Homo sapiens: one gene and its partners. The protein of the gene in region 4 purifies or fractionates together with the protein of the main gene of each other region. This does not show direct contact. Each region holds a gene or a part of one and is shown on either strand. Other genes may lie near its edges. The genes, in order: EDRF1, MAP3K4, PRMT7, DNAJC13, OCRL, ARFGEF1 and NCAPD3.

The links.
Region 1: the proteins of DNAJC13 (region 4) and EDRF1 purify together in Homo sapiens (affinity purification with mass spectrometry, with the first as the bait; one large-scale study listed by BioGRID). This does not show direct contact.
Region 2: the proteins of DNAJC13 (region 4) and MAP3K4 purify together in Homo sapiens (affinity purification with mass spectrometry; one large-scale study listed by BioGRID and IntAct). This does not show direct contact.
Region 3: the proteins of DNAJC13 (region 4) and PRMT7 fractionate together in Homo sapiens (co-fractionation; one large-scale study listed by BioGRID). This does not show direct contact.
Region 5: the proteins of DNAJC13 (region 4) and OCRL purify together in Homo sapiens (co-immunoprecipitation; one large-scale study listed by IntAct). This does not show direct contact.
Region 6: the proteins of DNAJC13 (region 4) and ARFGEF1 purify together in Homo sapiens (affinity purification with mass spectrometry; one large-scale study listed by BioGRID and IntAct). This does not show direct contact.
Region 7: the proteins of DNAJC13 (region 4) and NCAPD3 purify together in Homo sapiens (co-immunoprecipitation; one large-scale study listed by IntAct). This does not show direct contact.

Annotation. Positions count from the first base shown.
Region 1 is NC_000010.11:125,736,709-125,740,208, reverse strand, and holds part of EDRF1 (erythroid differentiation-related factor 1), read right to left. Parts: intron 2,292-3,500; coding exon 2,220-2,291; intron 1,915-2,219; coding exon 1,764-1,914; intron 1-1,763. UniProt on the Homo sapiens protein: Transcription factor involved in erythroid differentiation. Involved in transcriptional activation of the globin gene.
Region 2 is NC_000006.12:161,113,769-161,117,880, forward strand, and holds the end of MAP3K4 (mitogen-activated protein kinase kinase kinase 4), read left to right. Parts: intron 1-1,354; coding exon 1,355-1,534; intron 1,535-3,081; coding exon 3,082-3,102; 3' UTR 3,103-3,612; downstream 3,613-4,112. UniProt on the Homo sapiens protein: Component of a protein kinase signal transduction cascade. Activates the CSBP2, P38 and JNK MAPK pathways, but not the ERK pathway. Specifically phosphorylates and activates MAP2K4 and MAP2K6.
Region 3 is NC_000016.10:68,335,019-68,338,518, reverse strand, and holds part of PRMT7 (protein arginine N-methyltransferase 7), read right to left. Parts: intron 1,061-3,500; coding exon 948-1,060; intron 1-947. UniProt on the Homo sapiens protein: Arginine methyltransferase that can both catalyze the formation of omega-N monomethylarginine (MMA) and symmetrical dimethylarginine (sDMA), with a preference for the formation of MMA.
Region 4 is NC_000003.12:132,424,002-132,427,501, forward strand, and holds part of DNAJC13 (dnaJ homolog subfamily C member 13), read left to right. Parts: intron 1-3,500.
Region 5 is NC_000023.11:129,560,759-129,564,258, forward strand, and holds part of OCRL (inositol polyphosphate 5-phosphatase OCRL), read left to right. Parts: intron 1-420; coding exon 421-535; intron 536-1,625; coding exon 1,626-1,742; intron 1,743-1,840; coding exon 1,841-2,028; intron 2,029-3,500. UniProt on the Homo sapiens protein: Catalyzes the hydrolysis of the 5-position phosphate of phosphatidylinositol 4,5-bisphosphate (PtdIns(4,5)P2) and phosphatidylinositol-3,4,5-bisphosphate (PtdIns(3,4,5)P3), with the greatest catalytic activity towards PtdIns(4,5)P2.
Region 6 is NC_000008.11:67,221,782-67,225,281, reverse strand, and holds part of ARFGEF1 (brefeldin A-inhibited guanine nucleotide-exchange protein 1), read left to right. Parts: intron 1-248; coding exon 249-379; exon of another isoform or gene 380-593; intron 594-3,500. UniProt on the Homo sapiens protein: Promotes guanine-nucleotide exchange on ARF1 and ARF3. Promotes the activation of ARF1/ARF3 through replacement of GDP with GTP. Involved in vesicular trafficking.
Region 7 is NC_000011.10:134,213,968-134,217,467, forward strand, and holds part of NCAPD3 (condensin-2 complex subunit D3), read right to left. Parts: intron 3,132-3,500; coding exon 2,969-3,131; intron 1-2,968.

The DNA of each region.
Region 1 (3,500 bases), on a different chromosome or scaffold from region 4:
AACCTCATGAGTGACACCTGTCTCCTTTTTCCAGTCTATGTGTCAACCTGTCAAAGTTTACCTTCCTAAAGCACAGCTTAGATCAGCGTGAAAGCCTGTCCTCAAACATGAAAACGGCTTCTCCCCACTTAGCTAGTTGCATGTTTCTCAGTCTCACTTCCTACTTGTCCATCCTACTACCCATCAGCCAATGTTAAGTTACTGCTTGTCACCTATAAACATGCCTGTTTTTCCTATCTCCCATCTTAGTTTACTGTTTCCTCTACAAGGAATACTCTTTATTTAAAGTCCAGCCCATCGCTACCTTCTTTACTCAACAAATGATCATTTTTCTGCCAAGTACTGTGCCAGGCACTGGAAACTGTGACATGAAGTTATATGGCCTCTATCCTTGATAACATAAACCACAACAAAATATGTTAAGTGTAATTAACAGACAAAGAACAAAATACTGTGGAAAATTTTGCTCTGCAAATAACAAAAACACCCACCCCTTCCCCCAGCCTGAAGGTTTCTCATTTTTTAATCAGCTAGAACACAAGTCTTTCAAGGCAATGAAAGGTACTTAGTCTTCATTATGGTTTAATGTGTGTATGGATTTTTTTCCTCTGCTGATATAAGCATCATCTGTGAGTAAGAGGCATTGTGAGAAACTAAAATTAAGATGAAGTTCTTGTTCACAACCGTGTGTGTGCATGTGTGTGTAAAACCATTTAATGCTGGAACTCTGACATAAGGCAGGCTCACAGGACAAAGTGGTAAGAGAATCAAGTAATTCTGATGGAGAACAGAGGGAAACATGGAGATTCTGAGCTTGAGCAGGATTTTCAACAGGGGAGATGGAGAAGGAGACAGAAAAGGCATTTCAGAAAAAAAGAATGGCAAAAGTCCTGGTGTGATCTCCTTACTGCCTGTAGGCCGAAGCCTGGCATACCAGCAGCACTATATAAATGCTGGGGAAATAAATCTATTCCTCTCCTACCTCCACCATGTTTGTTCAGGAAAAGAAGAAGGGTCCAGAAAGCGCTTCCACTATGATTCAGATGTACTTCAAACATACAGGCTTTCTACACTTTTTTTTTTTTTAAACAATTGAAACTGATTTAAAAGGGGGAAAGAAATAAGGTTGGAAAAAGAAATACAACTTAGGTTAAAATAAGAAATTCACAACTTCTGCTTCGAAGTCCATATATTCTTCATGATGTTATATTCCTGAAGAACTAGATAATTTAAAAGTGACATTTGTAGCTTATTCAAGTACTGTGCAGTAACAACAGCCTACACTTCTATAGTGCTTATTATGTACACTGTTCTGAGCACTTTACATATATTAATCATTTAATCATTTAACAACCCTTTAAAGAAACCATTATTATCGTCTCCATTTTGAAAGAGATAAAAAGTGACTCAAAGAAGTGGAGCAACTTGCCCTCGCAAAGCCAAGATATGAAGTTAGGCAGTCTGGCTAAGTCTGTGGCTCCTACACGATCCAGCGAGAACTCCACCAGGCTGAAGCATTAGTTCCCCACTGTGGGTAACAGGAAGATGCAGGCTCCTTATGCTCTTATTAGAAATGTCCATGAAACATCAAAATTATCCTTTTTATATTTCAAATGAAAGAATACTACCCCTAATTCCAGTTCACAGGATATCTTTTTCTCAATGCCTTTCAATTAATGCCTTAATTGACATAAGTCTGCTGTTGATAAAGAACCAGTGTATTATTCTATTGAAGGCCTTATTTGCACATCAATTCAACTTACTTTTGTCCAAAAACAAGGCCATCTGCTTCTCTAGCCCCTCGGGACCCCCTCTTGAGGATTCATCTTCATATTTTAACGGGATTGGAGTGCTGGGGTCAGCTGCTGGAAGGTCGCTTTCTTTTTTGATGCTGCTATCGACAGATTTTAAACCCTGCAAAAAAAGGAAAAGCATTCACTATCTATCTAACTTCAGGTCAACTGAAAACTAAATATAAGACAGTATCTGGACTACTGAATACGTTTAGGAAAATTTCCATCTCACAAACAGACTTTCAAAAACTATGTTTGATCTGAAAGATTTGGGAAAAACAAATCTGATTTTCACTTTATGCTTAAGGAAAAAAAAATCGCAGCAGAACACAATTCAGAATAACATTTAGATACCAACAAACAAGTGTAATTTGCATAATCAAGTACAAACTTTACGAAAAAAGTGAAGACTAAACTTAAACTTACCTCTAGAACATAGCTAAGCACAAGTCTACAGCGCTCTTCTGTGTCATGGCAAACTGGAAATGCACAACTGGGCTTGAGGAACAAACATAAAATTATTAATACACTACCAATGTATTAAGGTCAACATATTGTTTTTGTTGAAGATTAAATTACTGTAAGCATTATCAACAAAAATCTTGCTTAAAAAGATCCTACAACATATATGTTGCTTTAAGTACTTACAATTTTAAATACAATTCTATTATGACAAAAAAGCAAGAACTAGAGTAGTAATGTTTTAGACAAATATAGACATCATCTAATAGGTCAGCTCCACTCATAATTAGCACCGATACTGGACAAAACACAATTAACAATTAGCGTCAATTTAGAAATAACAAGTATCACCAATATTCTCGTTGTTTAATTTATTTGCTTAATTAAGGAGCAAAAGCAGCTAGCAACCTCCAACTATGAAGGATATTATGTGTAGGGGCTTCTGTGAAGCATTTCATTTCGCTGAATCCCGTGGGGTTGGAATTACTGTTCTCATTGCACAGAAGAGAAGCATGCACAGACAGTTTAGCAATTTGTCTGAGGACACGGTGAGTGAGTGGGGAGCTGGGACCCTGGAGCTCATGCTGACTGTCCATACCACAAAGTCATTCAATGAGGATAAGGAAAGGCTAACTAAAGACATGTTTATATGAATACTAAGACTGCATTTTTTGAGTGCTTCAGATACGGAACAGAAAGTGCTATCTGTGAAAAATAGTGACACTAACTCATTACATCTTTAATTATTACCTAATTGCCCCGTAAGTCCATGGCCTAGTGTTACAATGCAGTTTTCCAGATACATGTAACTTTTGCAATCAATGATTATAACCAGAACATTTTTTCACTCCACTGTGGAAGTTCAAGCTGAAAGTGAACTAAAATTTAGATGGACAGTTAATGACTTTTTCCTGCAGTCATTTAGTCAAATATTTACTGAGCACCCATAATGTGTTCTAGACATGGGAGATAGAGGGTCTGTACCTGCAGGGAGCTTACGTTCTAGTGAAGCAAGACAAACATTAAGAACTTCAGGAACAGATAGGCTCCTTGAAGGACAAAAAAGTAGAGCATGCTTTGGCCAGAGTGGTCAGGGAACATCTCCCTGAAGAGGCAACATTTCAGTCAAGACTTAAGCCTTAAAAAAGGCAGCCATGAACAGACCTAGGGTAGGTACATTCCAAGCAGAAGCAACAGCAAATACAAAGACCCTCCAATGAGCATAATCTTGATGCTTTTGAGAGA
Region 2 (4,112 bases), on a different chromosome or scaffold from region 4:
TTTTACTTAGCATATGAGTGACTTTTTTTTTTTTTTTTTTTTTTTTTGAGATGGAGTCTCGCTCTGTCGCCAGGCAGGAGTGCAAGTGGCATGATCTCGGCTCACTGCAACCTCCGCCTCCCGGGTTCAAGCAATTCTTCTGCCTCAGCCTCCCAAGTAGCTGGGATTACAGGCACCTGCCACCATGCCTGGCTAAGTTTTGTACTTTGGTAGAGACAGGGTTTCACTGTGTTGGCCAGGCTGGTCTCGAACTCCTGACCTCATGATCCGCCTGCCTCAGCCTCCCGAAGTGCTGAGTGACATTTTTAAAGATTGAGAATACTATCTTTTAGAGAGTATATAAAGAAACACACATGTTTTGGACAGAAATTCCATGTGGTAGGGCTGCTCCGGAGACATTTCCAATCTCTATCAAAATTTTAAATGTGCATAGCACTTAAACCAAGAAGTTTTCTGCTTCTGAAAATGTATCTTATGATGATAATATTAATGAGCAGTTATACAAATGTAAAAAGACACGCATGAACTGCACATGGTAGCTTACCGTACACATACAGTATTATAGCAAAAAAGTTAGAAACCTTCATTTCTAAGTTAAAAGTTAGTGTTAAGTTACTAGTAGGAAATCAGTTAATTATAATGTAGCTATGCCTTGCAGCTGCTGAAACAGATCACATATAAGTGCTCAGTAAATATTAGCTAGCATTATTTCTATTAGCATTAAAATAGAAAGGCAGTTGTGATATCTGTGTTATTCCAGTAAAGCCACACATAAAAGAACAGGTTCTCATATTGAAGAATACATATTGGCAATGACGAAACAATAGTTTAGAAATTAGAATGCCATACACACTTAGTTCCTTCCCCTGTGAATCTCATTTTTCATAGGATCATAATGAAATAAGCTTTGCACTAATGCAATTTTTATTTTTCAATAAGGTAGCATATTAACCATCCCTATAAGAGAATTGGGTTTTATAGACTTTTTTATGTCATTTTATATATTTTTTAGTTGCATGATGATGGCTTCTAGATACTGTTGGACTAAATAGTGCACCCCAAATGGAGTAGGCAAACTATGCTGGCCACCTGTTTTATAAATAAAGTTTTGTTGGAACAGTCATATTCATTTATGTGTTGTCCATAGCTGCTACCATGCTGCCATGAGATTAGTGAATAGTTGTGATAGAGATCATATGGCCTGTCAACCTAAAATATTGTTTGGCCCTTTCAGTAAAAATTTGCTGTCCCCTGATATATATTAATGATGAGATGCTTAAAAACAGACTGAACATTTGCGTTGTTTGTGGCTGTGTAATATTAAAATCTGATTTTTTAAAAACATCTTTTTTAGAGGCCTTGGCATGAGTATGAGCACAACTTTCAAATTATGTATAAAGTGGGGATGGGACATAAGCCACCAATCCCTGAAAGATTAAGCCCTGAAGGAAAGGACTTCCTTTCTCACTGCCTTGAGAGTGACCCAAAGATGAGATGGACCGCCAGCCAGCTCCTCGACCATTCGTTTGTCAAGGTTTGGCAGATTACTGGATAGTCTTTTTCATGTTTAAGTGTTTAAGTTCTGTTTTGCATCAAGACGTTAATGAAATTTTGAAACTTTAAAGTAGCTATATCTGAAGTGGAAAGGAACTAAATGTATTATTATGCCAGGGATTTTTGTATGTGTTTTTTCATTTGGAAAATGTTCATTGAGGTTCTTCCACTTGATCTGTTTTGATGGTGCATTTAAGATACACCAGAGACAGTAAAATGGACTTTTAGATGGGACTGGATGAAAGAGTTTCCACTCTTGAGAGTGTATAGTCTACTTGGAGGGTCAAGACGGTAATGACTAATCATTATACTGAGAGCTGTGATAATGGTATATAAGGTTACTCAGAAGAGGAATTTAATTAAGTCAGCCAATCTCAGTTCTTTTTTCTCTAGAATGAGGTACCTTAGTTGTTTAAGAGCCACAGCCAGGTCAGAAGTGGGGGAGGGGGCATGGAAGACAAAGTAAAGAAACTTGGAAACGCTCACCCTTCCGGGAGAGTGGGATGGTCACAGAGCCCTGTGTAGGTAGATCCTGGTGAACACAGGATGTGGACAAGGGCAGGAAGATAAGGCTAGAACAGTAACCAGGAGCAACATGAAGGAGTTTCCATTTTATTATAAACATAAATGATGACATAGAGTTTTAGAAAGATCACTCTAGAGGCAAAGGAATTGAGAAGGTTCTGATACAGCCAAGGGGTTGGGAGAGGGCGTTCCGGGTGAGTGAACAGCGGCATTTAAGAGTTAGAGTGCCGTGGCTGACCCCTGATTGGATGTGAAAGGTGAGTGAGGGGAGGAGTCTAGAGTGGCTCCCAGGTTTCTGGTTTGTGTCATCAGGTCACAGACTCTATTTGCCAGGGTAGGGAAAGAAGCAGCTGGGTGAGGGGTGGGTCGGGAGGTGGTGGGTCCTCTTTGGTGGATGAAGCTTGGGGTACATTTGGAGCATCTGCTTGGAGATTTCACATGGGCATTTGGATACCTGGGGCTGGCACTCAAGAGGGATTTTGGGTAGGGCACAGGTGTGGGAGACAGAAGTATTGCTGGGAGGGTCCACAGAGGACAAGGGGATGAGAACAGAGCCCTGGAGAAAAGAGCCTTGCAAGGGCCCTGCAGGAGAGAGTCCCTGGGAAAGGAAAGGAAGGGGCAGAAGAGTGGGGTGATGCTCTTATTGGTAAGTGGGAGTAAGGGGCAAGCAGCAGGATCAGCTATGGAGACATTAGGGATTTGTAATTAAATAACAATTTATGTCTTAGTTATGAAGTGCATAACAATTTATATTGACCTGAGAGTGCATATAGGCGTTTTAGAAAATGCTTTCATTAGTCAGTTCCCAGGCTTAACTTTAGAGCAGTAACTTACCTCTGCCATTGTTCATTACATTTCTTAAGCCTTGCCCTCTGTGCCCAGTACAGTGCTGGGAGCATCAGGATGAGTGGATGGGGCCTTCCCCGTAAGACTCATACTGCGCGTATGCACAAGCACACACCTGGCTCTGCAAGAGCTCAGCTCTCTCCTGCTTCCTCACAGGTTTGCACAGATGAAGAATGAAGCCTAGTAGAATATGGACTTGGAAAATTCTCTTAATCACTACTGTATGTAATATTTACATAAAGACTGTGCTGAGAAGCAGTATAAGCCTTTTTAACCTTCCAAGACTGAAGACTGCACAGGTGACAAGCGTCACTTCTCCTGCTGCTCCTGTTTGTCTGATGTGGCAAAAGGCCCTCTGGAGGGCTGGTGGCCACGAGGTTAAAGAAGCTGCATGTTAAGTGCCATTACTACTGTACACGGACCATCGCCTCTGTCTCCTCCGTGTCTCGCGCGACTGAGAACCGTGACATCAGCGTAGTGTTTTGACCTTTCTAGGTTCAAAAGAAGTTGTAGTGTTATCAGGCGTCCCATACCTTGTTTTTAATCTCCTGTTTGTTGAGTGCACTGACTGTGAAACCTTTACCTTTTTTGTTGTTGTTGGCAAGCTGCAGGTTTGTAATGCAAAAGGCTGATTACTGAAATTTAAGAAAAAGGTTCTTTTTTCAATAAATGGTTTATTTTAGGAAAGCTCAGTTATATTGTCTTTTAATGGTTAACACTTATGAGCCAACGCAGTATGATACAGAAGTCTGTCATTTTCACTCATCTGTTCCTCAAAAGGAGGAGCACAATCACGTGTGCTAAAGATGGTCACTGGGTTCGGCGTCTCTTTAGGATCGCCTCGCTGAAAAGCAAAGGAAATAAATGAAGCAACACTAATGACGTAAGGTGGTTCCTTTTAAGTAGTTTCTATTAACCAGCAAGTTTATAACAGATACAAGTTTAAGCCTTGTTATCACATGTTGGGAGTTCACTTTATTTTTAAACCAAGATGTTTAGGTGCTAGGTCAGTGTAATTACTGCTGAATGATCTGATGAGAAAGCATCTTTTTCAGAAGTAAACATTTCAGCATTTAGCTTTCCAAAACAGCCCAAATTATACATCATTGGTGTTTTTTTTGTTTTTGTTTTTGCTATTAAATTTTTTAAAAAGATTGACCATAGAGCTTCCTGAAATCTTTTTGGAA
Region 3 (3,500 bases), on a different chromosome or scaffold from region 4:
CTCTCCACAGTGACCTCAACCATGCCCTCTTCACTGAGTAAATCCATGCATCTCTGGGCCTCTTTGCTTGGCTGACCTTTAGAGAGCTCAAACTCTGTGTAAACCAGAAGAATCGCCCTCACCACTTCCCAACCTTCCCAAGGCTACCCCTCTTCCTGCACTCCCCGTCAACAGGAAGCACCACCATCCAATCCAGGTGCCCAAACCCTAGCATCGATATCTCTACACCTAAGGGACCACCAACTCCTGGGACCACCTATCAGGCCTCTGTCTACAGCCTTAGCTGAGGCCCACTGTACCACAGCGTCTGGACGATTCCACAGCCTTTTAACCCACCCGCAACCTCCAGCCCTATACCCCAACTGCCCTCCACACATCTGCCTGCATAAGTCTGCTGTCAATCCTCTGCTTCAAACCCTCCTGTGATGCCACCCCACCTTCTAATGACAGCTACCCTCTGGGCATGGCCCCCAAACCCCACTCCATCTAGCCCCTGCCCAGCTCTCTAGCCTCAGTTGCTAAGCCCATCTCTCCTGCCTCCCACACAGCACAAAATCCAAAGCAGGCTCCGGAGCCACCGCACCGATTCAGTCTCACGTCTAGCACGTGCTGCTCTCCTCTACCAGAAATATTCCATCTGCCAGGCCAACACCTGATCACTTCTCAAGACTGACAGCTCAAGCATCGCCTTCCTGAGAATATTTGCTGAACTTAACTGAATTTGAATATAGTTTCTTGCTTTTCAACTCTAACCTATTAAGATTTGGCATTCAAGGGACATGAAAGTTTTAAGTGAGGAGAACCAGAGCCCCCCCAGGAATGGAGGGGTGTCCCAGGTGTATCAGAGGTGCTGAGGGCTTGGGCTGTGTGGGACACGGTGCATGAGTGAGTGCTATGTGAGCTGGCTGAGACCACAGACACGTCTGAGGGAGCCCTCCGTCTACTACCTCCACGAGATGCCTGTGTGCGTGCTCATAGGAGGGCAGCGCCCCCTCCCCGATCAGCTCTGTGTCAAACAACTCTGTGACCAGGATGTTGGCACGGCATGGCATGTCACCCTCTGAAAAACACAAGAAAACAGAGTTGGACATAAGCAACAGACTAGGAAAAATATTTACAGCAAATATGGGAAAGATAAGTGGTTAAGGGGCCATCACGCTAAAAGCACATATACATGCTGAGGTATTCAGAAGTGTCAGGATGTCTGCAACTGACTTGCCAATGGTTCAGGAAAAAAAAAAAATCCATATGTAAATGTATGACAAAACGCTAATTGATAAATCTAGGGTAAGGGATCATAAGTGTTTACTGTACTGCTCTTACAGCTATTCTGTATGCTTAATATTGGGAGGGAGACTGCAAAAAATGATAAGAAAACTATAAATACCCAATGGATTGAGTTCAGGAGTTTGAGATCAGCCTGGGAAACATGACAAAACCCCATTTCCACAAAAAATACAAAAATTAGCCAGGCATGGTGGCTCACGCCTGTAATCCTAGCACTTTGGGAGGCCAAGGCAGGAGGATCACTTGAAGCCAGGAGTTCAAGACCAGCCTGGCCATCATGGCGAAACCCCATCTCTACTAAAAATACAAAAATTAGCCAGGTGTGATGGCACACGCCTGTAACCCCAGCTACCCAGGAGGCTGAGGCATGAGAATCACTTGAACCTGGGAGGCAGAGGTTGCAGTGAGCCGAAATTGTGCCACTGTACTCCAGCCTGCGCGACAGAGTGATCCAGCCTGCGCGACAGAGTGAGACTCTGTCTCAAACAAACAAAAAAAACACACACCCAAAAAGAAACCAGGTAAAAATATAAACAGAAAATTCAAAACAGAAATCAAACTTATGAAAACTTTTTCATCCCTATTAGCAATTAGAGAGATATAAATTAACAATTAAACTATTAACCACTAAATTAGAAAAATTATTTGAAAAGCAAAAACAGAATGCTGGTATGTCAAATACTTCTAGGTTGCAGGGAGAGGGAGGGAAAGCCAAAGCAAGACAACAAGGTTCTCTGATGATCTTCCAGCTACTGTGAGTTAGGCTCTGGCAGCCAAAATTGAGATCCATGACTTAGAATCCCCAGATCACTATGGCAAATTCCCTTAATGAAAGCGCCTTGTCACCAAACAATCTCTTAAATAACAGTTGTTTTAGGACAGTAGGATTTTAGAGAAGAGTAGGATTTGGGAGGGATCTTCTGTTAACTGTTTTCTAAACCTCAGTAATGTACTGCTACTTCTACAATTATAATTTTTAATGAGCCAAGAGCCAAAATAGACTTTGGAAGGGGCTATTCATCAGGGAGAATTAACTGTAAACACTTTTAATGCCTCATGAATTATAATCTGACAAAGCCCACTCATTTCCCCTACACAGAGCACAAGTCTCACAGATGACACAAGGAAAAGAGAAGCATGAAAGCAGCTGACAGGGGCCGGGCGCGGTGGCTCCCGCCTGTAATCCCAGCACTTTGGGAGGCTGAGATGGGCAGATCACCTGAGGTCAGAAGTTTGAAACCAACCTGGCCAACGTGGTGAAACCCTGTCTCTACTAAGAATACAAAAATTAGCCAGGCGTGGTGATGGGTGCCTGTAATCCCAGCTACTTGAGAGGCTGAGGCAGGAGAATCACTTAAACCTGGGAGGCAGAGGTTGCAGTGAGCCGAGATCACGCCACTGCACTCTAATCTGGGCCAGAGTGAGACTCCATTTCAAAAAAAAAAAAAAAAGAAAGAGAGCAGCTGATAGAAGAGCACAACAGAGACAGCGTGAACCTCGAGCTCGAGGCTGGAGCCTGGCCTGGATCTCACTTCCTATCCCTGAGCCCTCCGTTCTGACCATCAGTTGCCTCATCAGTAAAACGGGTGAATGGGCTCTGTCTCATGTGGTGGTGGTCGGGATGATGAAGATAAAAAAAAAAAAGCACACTTCCTATGAAGCTCACCTGTGCTCCATGACAGTATCACGTGGAGGAGCTTAAGAAGAAACTTCTGTCTTCTGCCACAGAGACCACCCTCCCGAGAAGCCCTGCCCATCCTCTCTGATGTCACATCAAACTCCAACTGGAATACACTGTCCAAAACTCATCCCACCCACCCCAGCTAACACGCCTGCTCCTCCCTCCAGGGTTTCTGCCTCAATCAATCAATGAGTCACATAGTCCAGGAATCTGGGCATCATTTACTAGTTCCAGGACAGCAGGACCGCTGACTGCCTGTCCACTACTGTACCCCAGCACCCACAAGGTCTAGTGCCCCGTAACAGTCAACACACATTAGATAAATTATTGATTTCTGTCACCCTACAACCCACTGATCACCCACTCTGCCAATTCTATCTCCTGAATGTTTAAACCAATTATATAACTTAAAATGCTTTATAGTCCAAATTGCTTCATTAAAATAAAAATCAAGAGCCAGGCACAGTGACTCACACCTGTAATTCCAGCACTTTGAGAGGCCAAGCTGGGCTGATCACTTGAGGCCAGGAGT
Region 4 (3,500 bases):
AAGACCTTACAGAAATAGTATAGTTTGTTCTTGCATAAGCCAGGTTATGCTTCAAAGATAAAATGAAATAGAAATTAGGTCTATAAAGTTACAATAATGTGTATAAACTAAAAATATGTAAATGATCAATAGCAATGATTTCAAAGCATTGCTTAAGTGAACATGTTTCTGGAAAGAAAGCTTTCAGGTGAGTATTTTAAGGCATTTTTAAGCTTTGGAAAGGGAAGGGTCATAGTAATACATCTTTCACAGAAAATTTGAATTTTTTTAACAACAGATAAACTTCTGTTTTGTCAGAAATACAAATTATTCCCCTCAGATGAAATGAGCATACATGTGATAGAAATAGAAGAGACAGGTCTCTTTTCAATACTTGATTTATACTGTTGAATAGAAGAGGTCAAAAAAAGTAACTGCTATGGTAAGTATGCTTGTCCCCTCCTCCCATTAAGTGTTTCTTCAGATTTAGGGGTTGCTTTTGAATTTTTCTTGCCCTGTATTTCATTAATATATACTCAGTTTGTAATAGAAAGGAATCAAGTTTTTAAAAACAATGGTGGAGATCTCATATTATTTCAGCTACCCTATGGTAGTGAAACTAGTTAAAAGTTGATTATGATGTGACAGTACAATCACTTCACTTTAAAATATCTGGGCAATTATTTGAAGATATGATTATCAGATGAAATTTGATATTACCGCTGGCTTTTTTTATTCTTCAACGACATCTATCTCTGGAGGTATCGGGTTCTTCAGTAAGTTAAGGAAGGCTAAGATGGTAGGTACTAAAATCTTTGTGATGTATTTATGGTTTGTTTTAAGATTCCTGTTGGTATCATACATATTACACATACTGATTTGTTGTTCATTTAGAAGAAAATGCTTTTACCTGTACTTGAGTCATATATTAAAATGAAGCTAAAATTTAAAAATAGGGTTAAAGTTCATATGGCAGTTTCCCCCATACACAGCACATTCTATCTAAACAGTTTAGTTGTAGCTATTTAATCTGGGTAAAAATGAACATTCTGTTAGCCATTCATATTTTTTACCATTTGTTTGAAACCAAACTAATCTAGTGCTATGATTTACTCAGATTTTGAATCCAGTTACAAACAAACCTAGATCCTCAAGAAGCCAATATAAGATATTCTATCTATTACTCTTATTAGTTATTTTTTCAAAGGGTTAGTCTTTCCATGGTTCTCCTTACTACCCCTCCCTTTTTGGTAAGATATAGCTGTAGGAAGTATTACGTTCATAAATTAGTTCCTATGATGTGAATGTCTGCTACATTTTAAGTGTGGTTTTGGAATGTAGCATTGTTTCTGTTGTAGGAGAGTTTGATCAGAAAAGGCAAACTCCACAATTTTCACCCAACATATTGTAAACATTTTCACCTACAGCCAGGTTGAAAGAACTTTACATTAGATACCCACATGCCCACCTAAAGGTTTTTACATTAACATTTTACTGTACTTGCTTTATCACAGATCTGTCCATCTTTCCATCAATCCATCTTATTTTTTATGCATTTCAAAACAAATTCACATTTTTAGTTATTGAGGGCAGAGCTAATGAAAGTAAGTTCCGTTCTTGCATTTTACAGACTCAAAATGGGAAAATCAGTAGCTTACCTGTTCTCTGCAAGTTGTCATATTTGTGTAAAAATTACTTCCAGTTGATGATGCTAAATACGTGCTTTAAACAGGTGACTAGCCTGATTAATGCCAATCCTTCTTTCACTAGTGTATTTTTTTCTAAGTGTATTCATTCATCCCTAGTTAAATGAGTGTTCTGCTTGTGTTTTTGCTTAACACAAGCCATGTGTATATACTTAATTTTGCTGTGTGTGTAAATTTTTTTGCTTATAGCTTGACCGTAATTGGCTTGAGTGTCTGTGGTGTTGAGTCCCTTCATCTTGCTTTTGTTCTTAGTGTCAACTTGATGTAGGCTTCTTCTCACTGGACTCCCAAATCCTGTGGTTTTCTGTCAAAATTATGTGTCTTCTAAAAGATCATTCTCATTTTAACCATAAATGATCTTAAATGGTTTGCCAGTATTACTGCCAGTAATAAATTAGAGAATGCAAGAATATTGTGTTGTTCGAAAGCATGATGCAGTAGTATTCATTGAGAGAGGTGAATCTAGCCAAAATGCCTGTGTTGCCCTGAATTTGACTTTTTAACCCATAGGACAGTTCTATAAAAAGAACAAACAGAAGTTTCTTTGGTGGTGTAATTTAGGATATAGCATGAAAACAAGTGAAGCTGACTCGCAAAAATTGGAGATGCTTTCAATGCAATTTAATTACAAAAGGCATGTAAATTTGATTTTTCCTCATCAGAAAGAATCATGGGTCTTTGAGAATTTGAAATATGGAACACAATTGCAGGAATGAAGGAGATGAAATTTAAGTGACGTTAGTTTGAGCAGATAAATTCCTGCTATTTCGAATAGCCTCTAAACAACTGGCAGAATGGCAAATGCTAGTGATACAGCTGCTACCAAGATCTCATTCAAGATCCCATTTAACTGTTTACATTTTTTAGTTGGACAGTTTGTGGTTGTTGATAGCATGTGCTTATATTTGACTGTTACTGATATTACCTGCTTGATACTTGAGCTTCTGATACTAGAAATTTTACAGATTTTTTTCATCATAAATAGTGGAAATCAATGGTTGCTTAAGAGTTTTTGCCTATAAGTGATGATTTTTTTGAATCACTTTTAGAGCTTATTAATGTACAGAGGAAATATTGACTGCAGATTAAATTTATTTTGTGAAGTTTTTTTTTTCTTGAAAGTTTCTCAAGCCATAGTTAATTTGTAGCCATCAAACATAAATTTAAAAATATTAGGTTGGATACATGTAAGGAAACAGTTCTAACAACTGAAATTTCAAATACCTAAGTGGGGAATATTAAAAATGTAGTAAATAAGATTGACTTGTAATAGTATTTTGTAGGAATAAAGTTGAAATAAAAGACAAGCTTAAGTGTTGGGTTATAGTTGACAAGATGATTTTTAAAAATTTCATCTATCCTGATTATCTTGGTGTTTATATATACATATGTGTGTGTGTGTGTGTGTGTGTGTGTGCACGTGTGTGTGTGTGTATATATATATATATTTTTTTTTTTTTTTTGAGACAGGGTCTGACTCTGTCTCCCAGGCTCGAGTGCAGTGGCAAGATGAGGGCTCGCTCACTGCAGCCTCAGCCTCCCAGGCTCAAGTGGTCCTCTGACCTCAGCCCCCCAAGTAGCTGGGACTATAGGCCTGTGCCATGACACCCAGCTAATTTTTTGTATTTTTAGTAGAGACAGGGTTTTGCCATGTTGCCTGGGCTGGTCTTGAACTCCTGGACTCAAGCGATCTGCCTGCATTGGCCTCCCAAAGTGCTGGGACTACAGGCGTGAGCCATCGCACCCGGCAATATTTTTTTCTTTTTAAAAACGTTTTATGGGAAACATAAATTGTAACAATAAAATAATAATGAC
Region 5 (3,500 bases), on a different chromosome or scaffold from region 4:
ACACGAGAGTTAACTTGCGGGTCAAATTTGTGAGAACAGAAATGAACAGATACCTAAAATGGTGTAAGGAAGCATCTAATTTTCTTGAAACCCGTAGGAATCTATATATTCTGCATAGAAACTAAGACTTGGGGTCAGTTCTAACAGTGACAGTTCCTAGGATATAAGAGCAAAGCTCTGCTGTTATCCTCTGTGGGAGGTATTTTGATTTATTTTTTGCATAGCTTATGAATGTACTTGTGGGAATTCTTTAGAAAAGAAAGCTACTTGTTCTTACTGATAACCTGGGTGAACAGAGCAGTTCTATAAAATTTATCTCTCTCCCATCTTTTTTTCATCTAATGTTTCAACATATGGGACAGGAGGTAGCCAGAGATAATTATGGGATATGTATAGATCTCATATCCCTTTTTTCCTCAGATTCCAAGAACTGGACTTGAGCACAGAAGCCTTCTTCTACTTTGAATCTGTGAAGGAACAAGAATGGTCCATGGCTGTAGAGAGAGGTTTGCATTCCAAAGCCAAGTATAAGAAAGTAAGCCGCATTTAATTATCTTTTTAAGTGTATGACTAAATAGGGCTCACCGGGAGTTATTCCATTATCTACAACTTGTTCCAAAAGAATAGTTTAATTGAATTCTTCTCTGTGTGTAATACTGGGATAGGGCAGATTGATCATTCATCCTTATTTCCTAGAAAAAAAAATCCCTAAGCTTTCTGATACTATATTTTCATTGCTTAGATAGCTTTTAGGGGAAAAAAGAATTTTATTATGCTTATATCAATACTTAGTTTGAAATAATTACATATAAGATTTAGATTACTCACTGACATGGTCAGAATTGAATGCTTTACAGAAAAGCAATATGAAACGTGGGCGCATGGTGCATGTGTTGCAATCAGAGCAAGAATAGAAGTGGTGTGGAATTTGAACGAGTTCTAAACTTGGTTTTAAGTTAAGAGGAGAGTTGACTTTAGCAAGATGGGCCAATTTGTTTGTCTTTAGAAGGTATGTGGTAAAGGCATTTAGCTACCAGAAGAGTTAATTACAGGGCTATCATACTAAGGTCTCTAAAAGAAGTAATGTGAGTAATTTTTCTCTACATCTTCTAACAGTTTATATAGGTAATAAAACTCCTGGGGATGTTATTCCTCTCATATAGGTCCCTGACTAATGTATATCTCAGACATATTTCTAGCTGTAGTTCACAAGTTAAAAATAAGTAAAAAAGATTGCTGTTTGGTTGATTTCAATTTCTTAGAAAATTAGACATCAGAAACTAGGAAGGAAAGGTGGAAGGAACAAGCTGGGATAGTGGCTTTATTATTTGAACTTTTAATGCTGCTTACTCCTGGTAGGCTAAGAAGTGATTAAAAGAATAGATCTAGAGCTGAAAGTACTCATTGTCCCTCCCAGCTTTTAACTCTTATTGGTCAGTGCCAGATTAGAGCCTCCCCAGAGAATATTAGTTTCCACTTGACGGGGTCCACTGAGAAATTAGAGGATATGAAGTCAGATTTGGGCACTAGTATATCATCTTGATGGAAAATTAGTCGTGGGACATTAGAAATGTGGCAAAGATTGGTATTAACATTAACCTTTTGTAACTCCCCGGAACTCATAGGTTCAACTGGTGCGCCTTGTTGGGATGATGCTTCTTATATTTGCCAGAAAGGATCAGTGTCGATACATTCGTGATATTGCTACAGAAACAGTTGGAACTGGAATCATGGGGAAAATGGTGAGTTACTTTGGAAATGAGCTTGATTATTATTCATGTTCATGTAAAGTTCAGTTGCTTGTTCTGTGTACTAATTGAATAATTACTCTTGCTAACAGGGAAACAAAGGTGGGGTAGCTGTGAGATTTGTATTTCACAACACCACCTTTTGCATTGTCAATTCCCATCTGGCTGCACACGTGGAGGACTTTGAGAGAAGGAATCAAGATTATAAGGACATTTGTGCGAGAATGAGTTTTGTGGTCCCAAATCAGACCCTCCCGCAGTTGAACATCATGAAACATGAGTAAGTGGTTAACTCACCTGTAGCCTTTGAGTAGTGGCTACAGGAGTTTGGATAGTGTAGAGATTAAATGTGAGATACTGTAGAGCTGTGAAGAGTGAAAGATTACCAGTGAGGGATTGGGGTCACAAAGGAGAGGGTTTTTGAGTAATAACAGAATCATTGAGGCAGAGAAATTAGACTTGATATCAGAGGAAAAGATAGTTCTATTAGTGGGGCACCTAGAATAATGCTGGAGGGTCTGTAGTTGGAGTCAGTTTTTATTGTTTTTATGATAAAATAGAAATATTCATTGCAAATGTAATAAAAGATAAAATTAGAAGTTAAATTTCCTCATTTCTTATTCTCTACCTAGCCAGTCCCTCTCTCCAAAGGAAACCATTCTTAACAGTTGGGTGTGTAGCCTTTTAGATCTGTACTGTCCAATATGACAACCAGTAGCCATATATGGCTGTTAGGTACCTGAAAGTGACTGGTCCAAATTAAGATATGCTGTATGCATAAGCTATATATTGGATTTTAAAGACTTAGGAAGAAGATGTACGATATCTTGATTTCTAAAATATTGATCACATGTTGAAATAATTTGGATATATTGAGTAAAATGAAATTTATTGATACTCACTTGTTTTTTTTCTTTTTAAATGCAGCTACTAGAAAACTTAAAATTATATTGTGAGGTGCATTATAATTCTATTAAATAGCACTATTCTAGCCTTTTGTCTATTCATATACAAACACACACATAGGTACTTGGTGTATAAGACTGTATTATTCTATTTATTGTGGATTCCTTTCCAAGCCAGTATATATAGATCTACATTATTCTTTTTAATGGCTGTGCTTATTAAAAACAGGGGCAGCAGAGAGAGGTCAGTGAAGAATGGGATTTAATAAGCATAGAAGCAGAGATGTGTTGAGGAGTAGATGTGGTGGTAGAAAATGATTAGTTTTAAAGAAATTAATATACCTAAAACCATGAAAACCCTAGAAGAAAACCTAGGCATTACCATTCAGGACATAGGCATGGGCAAGGACTTCATGTCTAAAACACCAAAAGCAATGGCAACAAAAGCCAAAATTGACAAATGGGATCTAATTCAACTAAAGAGCTTCTGCACAGCAAAAGAAACTACCATCAGAGTGAACAGGCAACCTACAAAATGGGAGAAAATTTTCGCAACCTACTCATCTGACAAAGGGCTAATATCCAGAATCTACAATGAACTCAAACAAATTTACAAGAAAAAAACAACCCCATCAAAAAGTGGGCAAAGGACATGAACAGACACTTCTCAAAAGAAGACATTTATGCAGCCAAAAAACACATGAAAAAATGCTCACCATCACTGGCCATCAGAGAAACGCAAATCAAAACCACAATGAGATACCATCTCACACCAGTTAGAATGGCAATCATTAAAAAGTCAGGAGACAACAGGTGCTGGAGAGGATGTGGAGAAATAGGAACACTT
Region 6 (3,500 bases), on a different chromosome or scaffold from region 4:
CAGTTGAAAGTGAAGCTAACTTTTGGATTCTAGTCCAGAGCTCTTTATAGGCAGTTATGTTTTGCCTATTTCAGTGGCACATATACTAAAATTGTAGGCAGTTATAGTGTCCATTTTTTATAAATTATTTTTTATTAAATTGCTCACTGGTTATTTGTGAAGCATTTAAATTATTTTTTGAGAAGTTAGTATACTGAATGTATGGGTGTTATGTTTTGCCTTTAATAACCCTACCTTTTTTCTTGAAGGCTTTCAAGGAATACACAAGCGATGATATGAACGTAGCACCTGAAGACAGGGTGTGGGTGAGAGGATGGTTCCCAATTCTCTTTGAGTTATCCTGTATCATCAATAGATGCAAATTAGATGTAAGAACCAGGTAACAATCTATATTTGTAATTAAAATTTTGGATTTATTTTGACTTTAATCAAATTAACTCTTCTTTATAAACACAATCTCACAGTTAAAGACCATAAAATCAAGTGTTTTGTCAAATATATTAATTATTAGGTATATTTTAAAATATGTTAATATGATTTAAAAATATTAACTAGAGCAAAATAAAAATGGAAATACTACATTATTTTTAAAATATTTGATTATAGCCTCCATTTGATTTTAGCTTCTAAGTTAATTTAATCCTTTAAACATTCCGTCTTTTCATATATTTGTTTCCAATAATAAGTTGAAGTTAGTGGCAAAATTTATTTTATTTCCTGATGAATGATAGAAGAATTTTTAACTGCACATCCTTGCTGGGTTTTAGGTGAAGAACCATTTCTTTTTGTAACCTGGTCAGTAACATAGTTTGGAATAATATAGAGCTATTCAAATAGAACTCTTTCAAAAGTATATTGCCAATAAAAGATCATTATGAACATATAGTCAATCTGTAAAGGAACTATTATGGGTATTATGTAACTGGCCAAATGCTAACACACTGTTCTTAGGTCACGGCTCACATGATTCCCATAGTAGTTTTTTTACCCTGTACTTTGCCACATTGAAATGGCCAGCTTGTGTGTCCTAATATCTGTCAACCTCTAAACCCACCGTGAGTTCAATTTTATGGTAAACAAAATCTTTTAGGAATCTTTCCATCTTATTTGGAAGAATCTTCTGTTATTTGGATGTGTAACTTTATCGAATTTTTTGAATTTCTAAAGGTAGCACAGAATGAATCTCTCTTTTCTCACCTTATGCCAGAACCACCCCCATCCCCCACCAAGGTTAAATTTGACTTATATCCCAAGAAATTTTTCATTTTTATAGTATTATTTGTTACAACAGAAATTCGTATGAAATAGATAATCAAAATAGGACTTAACCCTTAGGGATTTTAATTATGAGAGCACTATAGAAAAACATTTTATTTTATATTTAGACATGGTGGATTGTTTATCAGTGGACCTGTTAGGAACTTGTTAAAATTCAAGATAGCCCCATTTCAGCTGTCCACCTGCCTCAGTGGAGCGGCTGACATATCATGACTAGCAGGTCATGAAAACTCAGCACCCTCTCCCCTCACCCTTTATTTATTTGTAGAAGTCTGTTTGATGGAGGATCCACCTGCTTTCTTAGCCTTCTGTTGCTTGGCACTGTGATACCTTATTTCTCACCATATTCCATGTTCAGATTATGGGTAGATTCCAGTTGTTAAAGAGGTTGTGTGTGTTCTAGTTAGTAAAGGAGAGAGAAAAGATCAGTAAACTTTGTTCAGTGATGGCCTTTGATTTTCCTACCTCATCCCAGGATATGTATGGGTTGCTATTTAGCTTCCATCTTAAAATGTGGGCCGGATGCCATGGCTCACATCTGTAATCCCAGCACTTTGGGATGTCAAGGTGGGAGGATTGTTTGAAACCAACCTAGGCAACATAGTGAGACCCCATCTCTTTGAACAAAAAGTTAACTAGGCATGGTGGTCATGCCTCTAGTTCCTGCTGCTCATGAGGCTGAGGCGGGATTGCCTAAGCACAGGAGGTTGGGGCTATGGTGAGCCCTGATCACACCACTGTACTCCAGCCTAGGCAACAAATTGAGACTCTCTGTCTTTAACAACAACAAATAGTGCAGCACTATAATTGGTATAACACTGTGTAGAAAGAATTTCTTGTGTGCATTCTTACTTAATTCTTCCAAAATTCTCTAGATTTGGGGATAAATACCGAAAATTAAAGTCCCAAATATAGTCAGGCATCATTTAATGACAGGAGTATGTTCTCTGCAATGCATTAGTAGGCAATTTCAGCATTGTGTGAACATCATAGCATGTACTTACACAAATCTAGATGGCATAGCCTATTGCTCCTTGGGTACAACCTGCACAGCATGTTACTGTACTGTAGGCAGCTGTTAATACGGTGGTGTTTGTGTATCTAAACATATCTAAACAGGCTGGGTGCAGTGGCTCACGCCTGTAATCTCAGCATTTTGGGAGGCCAAGGTGGGCAGATCACCTGATGTCAGGAGTTTGAGACCAGCCTGGCCAACCTGGTGAAACCCCATCTCTACTAAAAATACAAAAATTTGGCCAGGCATGGTGGCCATACCTATAATCCCAGCACTTTGGGAGGCCCAGGTGGGCGGATCATCTGAGGTCAGGAGTTCAAGACCATCCTGGACAACGTGGTGAAACCCCTTCTCTACTAAAAATACAAAAATTAGCGAGGCGTGGTGGTGCGCACCTGTAATCGCAGCTACTTAGGAGGCTGAGGCAGGAGAATCGCTTGAACCTGGGAGGTAGAGGTTGCAGTGAGCTGAGAGTGCCACTCTACTCCAGCCCAGGCAACAGAGTGAGACTCTGTCTCAAAATAAAAATAAAAATTAAAAAATACAAATACAAAAATTAGCCGGGTGTGGTGGTGCACACCTGTAATCCCAGCTACTTGGGAAGGTGAGGCATGAGAATTGTTTGAACCCAGGAGGCGGAGGTTGCAGTGAGCCAAGATGGCACCACTGCACTCCAGCCAGGGTGACAGTATAAGACTCTGTCTCAAAAAAAAAAAAAATACATACATACATACATACATACATACATACATACATACATATACATATATATATATGTGTGTGTATATATATATATATATATATATGTGTATATATATATATATGCATGGAAAAGGTACAGTAAAAACATGGCATAAAAGATAAAACCTGTAGGCTGGGCATGCATGGTGGCTCACGCCTGTAATCCCAGCACTTTGGGAGGCCAAGGTGGGCGGATCACGAGGAAAGGAGATCGAGACCATCCTGGCTAACACAGTGAAACCCCGTCTCTACTAAAAATACCAAAAATTAGCCGGGCGTGGTGGTGGGCACCTGTAGTCCCAGCTACTTGGGAGGCTGAGGCAGGAAAATGGCTTGAACCTGGGAGGTGGAGCTTGCAGTGAGCAGAGATCATGCCACTGCACTCCAGCCTGGGCGACAGAGCAAGACTCCATCTCAAAAAAAAAAGAAAGAAAAAAAAAAGCAACAACAAAAACCCATATAGGGC
Region 7 (3,500 bases), on a different chromosome or scaffold from region 4:
TTCTTAGAGATTCCAACATTCCTCTCTCAACAACAGATAGAACAAATAAACAGAACATCAGGAAGCATATGTAAGTCTTGAATAACATTTGTAACCAACTTGACCTAACTGACATTTACAGAATACTAGATCCAACAAAGGCAAGGTACACATTCTGTTAAAGTGCAAATGGAAGATTCACCAAATTAGACTCTAAGTCCATTAAAAAAAAAGGCACAACTAAATAATTTAAAAGTATCATAATCATATGAAGTATGTTCTCTGATCCCACCAATTAAAACTCAATTACAGTAAGATTTCAGGAAAGTTCAAATATTTGGAAAATAAACTCAATTTACTAAACAACTCAGAGATGTAAGTAATGACAAGAAAAATTTGAAAATCACTTTGGCCTGCACAACAGTAAAAACATATCATCGAAATTTGTGGGATGCAGATGAAGCTGTACCTGGAGGGACATTTATAGTATTAAATACTTGTATTAGAAACAAAGAAATGCATGTGAGAACAAAGATCTAAGCATCTACCTTAAAAAGTCAGAATAAGAGCAAATTAAACCCAAAGTAAGAAGAAAGGAAATCGTAGACATAAGACCAGAAATCAATGAAACAAGAAAGGGACAAACAACAGAATTTAATTAATGACATCAAAAGGGGGCCCTCCAAAATGAACAGTAAAATGAATAAATCTCGATCTAGATTGATCAAGAAAAAACAAAATACAAATCACCAACATCAGGCATGAGAGGAGATCACTAGAAATTCTACAAACATAAACTTCTTTCAAAAAACTCCAGGCCCAGATGACTTCACTAGTGGGTTCTACCAAACATCTGAAGAAAAAAGAAAACCCAAAATCTTCCAAAATACAGAAGAGAAGGGAATACTATGTAACTTATTCTATGAAAATGGTATTACCAAGATACCCAGATACTCAAACCAGACAAAAATATCTCAAAAAAAGAATATCCCTTATGAATATAGACAAAAAACCTTCAACAAAATATTAGCAAACACTCTGACAACATATAAAAAGGATTATACACCATGACCAAGGTCATACAAAATTGGTTTAATATGTGAAAATCAACCAATGTAATATACTATATTAGAATAAGAAACAAAAACCACATGAGCACTTCACAAGTGCAGAAAAGCGAATGACAAAATCCAACAGCCTTTCATAATGAAGCACTCAGTAAACTAGGAATAATAACTTAATAAGGGCCATCCTGAGAAACCCACAGGTAACATCATACCTAAAGGCAAGACTGGATGCTTTCCCCTTAAGATCAGGAATAGACAAGGATCCCCACGCTCCCCTTCTATTCAACACTGTACTGGAGGTTCTAGCCAGGGCAAATAGGTAAGAAAAATAAATAGAAAGAACCCAGACTAGAAAGAAAGAAGTAAACCTGTGTCTATTCACAGATGACATGATCTTACACAAAGAAAACCCTGTTGGAACCAACAAATGAGTTTGGCAAGGTTCTAGGATAGAAGATCAATAATCAAAATCAATTTTGCTTCTATACAGTACTAATAAACCAAAATAAAATTAAGAAAACAATTTCATTTACACTAGCATTGAAAATAACACTTAAGAATAAATTTTAAAGGGGAGATGCAAGAGTTGCGCACCAAAAATTATAGAGCATTATTGAAACAAATTAAAGAAGATCTACAATAAATGGAAAGACATCCTGCGGCTAGGGATTAGAAGACCTAATGTTGTTAAATTGGCAATACTTCACAAACTCATCTACAGTTTCAATGCAATCCCTGTCAAAACCGCAGCTGGCTTTTTTATTGTTGCAGAAATTCACGTACAGATCCTAAAATTCACATGGAAATGCAAGGGAGGCAGAACAACCAAAACGATCCTGAAAAAGAATATACTGTGATCGAATGTTAAGTATCGACAGCATCCCAATCATAAACCCGAAACATTTAAAAACAGAAGGTAACTGGCAGGAATACGGCTTGCTGGAAAGCTGCAAGTGGCCCACGCAATTAGTAACAGCCACCTCTTTGCTCTGGCATAAATCTCAACCTTAATCAGAAGAAACTGCATCTGGCAAGAGGAGAGTGAAACTGGGTTTCTAAAACCACTACTTTTTTGAGAGAGGGCCTAGTTACAACCGAGACACTGCTTAGCAACAAAATCCTTTAGGAACTTACTCATTTCCAAAGTCATGATGGGAGCATTAACAACAACACAAATCAATGTTCAGGGCTTTAAATATAAGACCTTTTTGCCCATTCCCAGATCACATGGAATAAATCCTTTGCTAAACATTTGTAATTAAACAAAGATAAGCAGCAAGGTGACTGATCTTGCCATTCTCTTTTCCATATGAACTTCAGGTTATCTGACTCAATCTCTATGTTCCACTCTCTCTCACCCTGTGTTTGGAGTAGGGAAGAGAATGGATTTCACTGTCATAGGAGGAACAGCCTCCTCAGTGCTCTGACAATCAAGTAAAACAGTGCTCGAAAACAGACTCCTGGTCAGTGCTCTCCTTCAAGTATTACTAGCTGCTTTCCTGCTTTCTTGATTAGAATGGTTTTAATCTATTTTTCAATACCAACATCGGAGAGGTAAAAAGCAATGACTCCCCACAGCAGTATTTCTCAGTCTAGACAAGGAATCATGAGAAGAAAGGGCAATATCAGAATTTTAGACGGCCGTGGTGGAGGGTGGGCGTGGAACTCTTGCACTCCTTCTCAGACTATTTTTATTAGTTTATAGATAGCATAACTTCGGATGAAAAAAAAAAGGGGGAAGGTTTTCCAAGACCTATAACATGCCATGTACTTTAGAGACTTGCTCCTCGCAACAACTCTCTGCCATGGGTTAGCACTGCCCCATTTATAAGTGAAGAAACAAGAAACAAAGTATAAGAATTGAAAACTGTAGAAAGAAAAAAATGACAGAAGATTTATCCTATCATATCAGGTCTACATACCTGGTACTTCTAGTAGCAAAAAGTAAAGCCCAGCGGCATGAAGGCCATATTCTCGATACTGTACACTGACATTCTTCTTATGAACTATTTGAACAAAATGATAGAACAATGCCACCAGTGTACTATGGGAAACATTGTTCTCAATGAAGAAGGTCCAGATACTCTGTGGGGAGACCGCAAATCACAAAAGCCAGTCATTAGAGAAATGGAAACATTTCCTATTATTTGATTTTTGTAAGTTCTTGGTGCCTTACAAAAAGAGGAATAGAGTAGCCTGGCTCCTACTGCTAAATGTTTACCATCTTCAAAGGGACTGAAACAAAATATCAAAATTAAAGGTATATTATTCAAAATTACCAAGATAAATATGTATATAACATATTTAAATAATTAAACTTTCAAAAGAATTTTTTGTTAAGTTTGTAGCATATATACTTCAGAAATTATAGCTTAAAACTACACTAAGACTTTTGGGACACCATATATTAGTGATTATTCAGGAAAGTTATCCCTCTATTTATATTAAAAGGAA